Homo sapiens: one gene and its partner. The protein of the gene in region 1 purifies or fractionates together with the protein of each later gene. This does not show direct contact. Each region holds a gene or a part of one and is shown in the gene's direction. Other genes may lie near its edges.

Evidence for each region. Proteins that work in one complex are often made in the same cells at the same time.
Region 2: the proteins of ZDHHC16 (region 1) and PCK1 purify together in Homo sapiens (affinity purification with mass spectrometry; one large-scale study listed by BioGRID and IntAct). This does not show direct contact.

Annotation. Positions count from the first base shown.
Region 1 is NC_000010.11:97,452,675-97,456,174, forward strand, and holds part of ZDHHC16 (palmitoyltransferase ZDHHC16), read left to right. Parts: intron 1-220; coding exon 221-249; intron 250-855; coding exon 856-989; intron 990-1,124; coding exon 1,125-1,172; intron 1,173-2,039; coding exon 2,040-2,125; intron 2,126-2,927; coding exon of another isoform or gene 2,928-2,985; coding exon 2,986-3,109; intron 3,110-3,299; coding exon 3,300-3,370; intron 3,371-3,500. UniProt on the Homo sapiens protein: Palmitoyl acyltransferase that mediates palmitoylation of proteins such as PLN and ZDHHC6.
Region 2 is NC_000020.11:57,564,110-57,566,365, forward strand, and holds part of PCK1 (phosphoenolpyruvate carboxykinase, cytosolic [GTP]), read left to right. Parts: intron 1-59; coding exon 60-284; intron 285-372; coding exon 373-504; intron 505-930; coding exon 931-1,026; intron 1,027-1,240; coding exon 1,241-1,695; 3' UTR 1,696-2,256. UniProt on the Homo sapiens protein: Cytosolic phosphoenolpyruvate carboxykinase that catalyzes the reversible decarboxylation and phosphorylation of oxaloacetate (OAA) and acts as the rate-limiting enzyme in gluconeogenesis.

The DNA of each region.
Region 1 (3,500 bases):
TATTACCACTTGTGAAAACCGAGGTTTGGAGAGATGAGTTACCTTGTCCAATATCTTATAGCCATTAAACTGCAGAGCTGGGTTTGAAGCAAGGCCTGGCTGTCTTCAAAGTCTGTGCCCTTTCCACCTCAGCAGGATGCTGGTCCTTGTAGGGAAGGATTGGCACTGACATCTCAAGAACTTTGGCCACCGTAACAGAGCCTGTGTCCCTTCCTCACAGGTGTGTGCTGAAGATGGATCACCACTGCCGTATCCTTTTGCTTTCTCTTCTGCCTGAGGCCTTCTTTAGCTCCAGAGCACTGTACAGGGTTAATGGCCACCATTTTAGCATCACCGTGCAGAGAACACTGGAGTTGAGGAGTTGTGGGGCCTGACCATCTCCTGGGAGAGCAGGAAGCTCACACTCTAGGACGGATCTTCTTGGAGCAGGGAATCTTTTAACACCTCTTTCTTTTCTAGACTCTCATGCTAACAGCTATTGGATGGAAAGAGATGTTTGGGCTTCTGTGGTTGTTTACTGTGTACGCCAGATAGAACCGTGGGTCTCCAGCTGCTGTTCCACACAGATGTTTGGCTAACTCCAGCTAGGCTGAAATATTGGCAGATTCATTTTACTGAAGGATTTCAGTTTCCGTGACTTCTTGGTGGGACCTGAATGCTCTGAAAAGCTTTGAGCATTTTCACCTCAACCTTGGGTGTGAACAGTCTTGTATTTTCTTGCCTTTGGAAAGTAGTTCTTAGTGACTGGAAGCCTGAGGCTTGGGTGATATTGTCAGGAACCAGGGATGAACCTGAGGGGCCTGGACACCGCCTGAAATTGTGTTTGATTCTAGTCCTTAATCATTTCCCAACCAGCCTGGCTAAACAATTGTGTGGGCCACTATAACCATCGGTACTTCTTCTCTTTCTGCTTTTTCATGACTCTGGGCTGTGTCTACTGCAGCTATGGAAGTTGGGACCTTTTCCGGGAGGCTTATGCTGCCATTGAGGTGAGCTCATCAGGAACAGGGCAGCTCAGTAGTGCAGAACTTCGGGATGTAGAACCTGTCCCTAAGGAATGGGGCTGGTAGCACCCCATCCTAGAGGCCTGAGAGTATAACCAGCACTGTTTTCCGTCCCCTTAGAAAATGAAACAGCTCGACAAGAACAAACTACAGGCGGTTGCCAACCAGGTGGGCTGTCCCCACCCCACTGCCTCCTGCTGCTCAGGCCTGGGGGTATAGAGTTGCTAAGGCATCTGGGGCCGACCTGCCCATGTAGTTGTAGAGGCTGCCGAGAGGCCACTCTAGACCAGATCAGGAGTGTTCAGGCAGGCTGGCTGTGGTGGGTAGACTAAGTGGCCTACAGGCAAGCTGGAAGTCCCTGGTATGTGACAGTTTTGGCTATCTATCCCGTCATCACCTCTCTTTGGGTCGAGCAAGCAATCTGCCTTGGTGATGGCCTGAGCAGCAAGGAGTCTATGTTAGTCTGTGTAATGGGGTTCCAGGGGACAGAGATCAGGCAGAGCCAGTCTGATCATCCCTTGCTCCTGGTCCATCTGCATCTGGATCATCCCTGCCCCCCCAGTACCTTTTAGGACTCCCTAATCTGCTGAGCCCATCTTGATTGTATTTCTGCTGCCCTTTCACAGTCCCTAGTGGAGCTCACAGTCCCTAGTGGTTTTCCCCACTCCAGTCAGTCCATTCTGGGTATGGTCTGGTCTCCTCTCTTGGGGATGCAGCTGTGCAGTGAAGGAGTTCTGGCTGGGGATTGGAGTGGCTTCCCCTGGAGCCCCATTTGTGTTGTCACTCTACAGGCCCAGGGTCAGCTTCTCCTGTGCTTCACCATCCTGTCCAGACCCTGCTCTGCTGCCCAGTGTTTGTCCATGTGGTGATGCCGCTGGGCTTGGTCCACCCATCTTGGCTGCTACCCTAACTCCTCTGTGGCTTTACCCTGTTTTCTCTGCCTGGATTTGGATCATTTCCTGCCTATAGGTGCTGGGGGCAGTTGCTGGAGACCCACAGAGCAAATGAGCCAGCTTTGCTGTTTTCTTTTTCTAGACTTATCACCAGACCCCACCACCCACCTTCTCCTTTCGAGAAAGGATGACTCACAAGAGTCTTGTCTACCTCTGGTTCCTGTGCAGGTATTTGTTTTTGATAGTTTTAAGGGAGGGGAAGCTTCAGAAAAAAAGTTTTTTAGGTGCCCACACGCAGGCAGAAACCCATTCCTAAGTGAACTGCCACTGCTCTAGTCTAACTTAGGTTGGCAGAGAGCCAGCACTTTCTTCAGCATTCAGGGCAGGGAGCACTGAGGATATTGGCATTGCTTATTACTAAGCACACAGATACAAGTATGTGCTTGATATGTAACCAAAGTAAGTTAAACTCCTTATTTAATCTTAGCACCTGTCTAAAGGCTGGGTGACTGTATTTATAGATGAGGAAAACTGAAAATTGGGGGCCAAGGGGCAGTGAAGTGAAGTGACTTGTTCTATGATACACAGCTAGTAGGAATATTAGCACTGGAATTTGAATTTCATGCCATCCCATTCCAACCCTGGGTGTTTACTACTTCCCACTATCTCCCAAGCATGGGTATTTTAGGAAATATAGAACATTTTCTCAGCAATACAGACTTATTTCTCTATTCTCCTTTCCACATACTCTCTTTTCCCTTAACAACAACAGAGATGGAGTCTTGCTATGTTGCCCAGGCTAGACTCAAATGATCTTCCTATCTCAGTCTCCTGAGTTGCTGGGACTACTAGGCATGAGCTACCATGCCTGGCTTCACATCATTTATTCTTAGGCCACTTTGATGCTTTTTCATTGATGCTCTTTATAGACATAGTGAAGTAAAAGTTTATCTAGGATATATGGTGGGAGGTGAGGAAGACTTAGGTAGAGAGGTTCCAAACCAGTTGTTACTGCTTAGCTCAATTTCAGACATACTTCCTCCAGCCCTCTCTAAACTACCCACCAGTCTTCGCCCCTCTTTTCTTAGTTCTGTGGCACTTGCCCTGGGTGCCCTAACTGTATGGCATGCTGTTCTCATCAGTCGAGGTGAGACTAGCATCGAAAGGCACATCAACAAGAAGGAGAGACGTCGGCTACAGGCCAAGGGCAGAGTGAGTAGGGTTGAAGGCTCGGGGTGGGTAGGTGGGTAACTGAACTTGCTCTCCTGTAAACAGAGGCCATGGGCAGGGCTGACTAGGGCAAGCATTGTAAAAGGCCAGAACTACTCTATCTGAGCTTTAGCTTAGCCAATTTAGTCTGAAAAATTAGAAGTTCAAAGAAACATGTTTTTCTTGGCTCCAGGTATTTAGGAATCCTTACAACTACGGCTGCTTGGACAACTGGAAGGTATTCCTGGGTGTGGATACAGGAAGGTAATGTAAGACACACAGACTAATGCTGTCCAACAGAACACTGTGATGAGAAAGATGTTCTATGCCTGTGAGCACTTGGAATATGGCTAGTGGCTACTGTGTTAGCACAGTTCTAGACTCTAGGAATAGA
Region 2 (2,256 bases), on another chromosome or scaffold:
AGTATATGTTCTGCTTTGCCTGGCACTCACTACTGCTTCTCTGGTTTAAAACTCTCCAGGTCATTTAAGGGCCATCAACCCAGAAAATGGCTTTTTCGGTGTCGCTCCTGGGACTTCAGTGAAGACCAACCCCAATGCCATCAAGACCATCCAGAAGAACACAATCTTTACCAATGTGGCCGAGACCAGCGACGGGGGCGTTTACTGGGAAGGCATTGATGAGCCGCTAGCTTCAGGTGTCACCATCACGTCCTGGAAGAATAAGGAGTGGAGCTCAGAGGATGGTGTGTCCCTGCCAGAGGCCTTGGTGTGCCGGGCTGCAGGGACTGCCTGTTTGAGCCAGGCACTCACGAGCCTTTCTCTGTCTTATAGGGGAACCTTGTGCCCACCCCAACTCGAGGTTCTGCACCCCTGCCAGCCAGTGCCCCATCATTGATGCTGCCTGGGAGTCTCCGGAAGGTGTTCCCATTGAAGGCATTATCTTTGGAGGCCGTAGACCTGCTGGTGAGGCTCTCCTTCATTTAGGCTGGGAACATGGGTGTGCTGGGTACCGAAGGGCATCTGTGAAATCTCTCCTTTTCCATGACCTTGTCAGAGGGTGCCCAGGGGCTTCCTTTCTTGAGCTTCCTTCCCAAAGATCCAGAATAATTGGCAAGTTCAAATGTAGAACCAACCCTTCTGGTCACCTGGAACCTTTCTGAATCCCTGATCTATTGTAGCTTGATCAAATTTTACTTTTTACTTTGTGGCCTCAGTCATGTAACTTTGAGTTAGCAGTTTTCTGCAATTTAGCTTGGTGAACGCAAAACTAGCTCGATTACAAAGTTATTGTCTTGCCGTGTCTTTCCGTGTTGTGAATAACACCACTGGTTGTGGAGTCTGAATTTCAAAGCCTCTGATGAACATTTCTCTTTTTTTTTCCTGCTAAAGGTGTCCCTCTAGTCTATGAAGCTCTCAGCTGGCAACATGGAGTCTTTGTGGGGGCGGCCATGAGATCAGAGGCCACAGCGGCTGCAGAACATAAAGGTAAATCAAAGTCCTGATCTGAAACCACAGAGAAGTGGGATTAGAGCACTCTTCGTCACTCTTATGTCTCTCTCCTTTTCTGTGTCTGTGTGTGGGGAGAGAGAGAGAGAGAAAGAGAGAGAGGAGAACAAAGCATGCTAATGTCAACAATCAATGGCGTCAGTCTTGCCTAGGAGAGCCTCATTTACTAATGAACTCCCTCTCTGTTTAACAGGCAAAATCATCATGCATGACCCCTTTGCCATGCGGCCCTTCTTTGGCTACAACTTCGGCAAATACCTGGCCCACTGGCTTAGCATGGCCCAGCACCCAGCAGCCAAACTGCCCAAGATCTTCCATGTCAACTGGTTCCGGAAGGACAAGGAAGGCAAATTCCTCTGGCCAGGCTTTGGAGAGAACTCCAGGGTGCTGGAGTGGATGTTCAACCGGATCGATGGAAAAGCCAGCACCAAGCTCACGCCCATAGGCTACATCCCCAAGGAGGATGCCCTGAACCTGAAAGGCCTGGGGCACATCAACATGATGGAGCTTTTCAGCATCTCCAAGGAATTCTGGGAGAAGGAGGTGGAAGACATCGAGAAGTATCTGGAGGATCAAGTCAATGCCGACCTCCCCTGTGAAATCGAGAGAGAGATCCTTGCCTTGAAGCAAAGAATAAGCCAGATGTAATCAGGGCCTGAGTGCTTTACCTTTAAAATCATTCCCTTTCCCATCCATAAGGTGCAGTAGGAGCAAGAGAGGGCAAGTGTTCCCAAATTGACGCCACCATAATAATCATCACCACACCGTGAGCAGATCTGAAAGGCACACTTTGATTTTTTTAAGGATAAGAACCACAGAACACTGGGTAGTAGCTAATGAAATTGAGAAGGGAAATCTTAGCATGCCTCCAAAAATTCACATCCAATGCATAGTTTGTTCAAATTTAAGGTTACTCAGGCATTGATCTTTTCAGTGTTTTTTCACTTTAGCTATGTGGATTAGCTAGAATGCACACCAAAAAAATACTTGAGCTGTATATATATATGTGTGTGTGTGTGTGTGTGTGTGTGTGTGTGTGTGCATGTATGTGCACATGTGTCTGTGTGGTATATTTGTGTATGTGTATTTGTATGTACTGTTATTGAAAATATATTTAATACCTTTGGAAAAATCTTGGGCAAGATGACCTACTAGTTTTCCTTGAAAAAAAGTTGCTTTGTTATTAATATTGTGCTTAAATTATTTTTA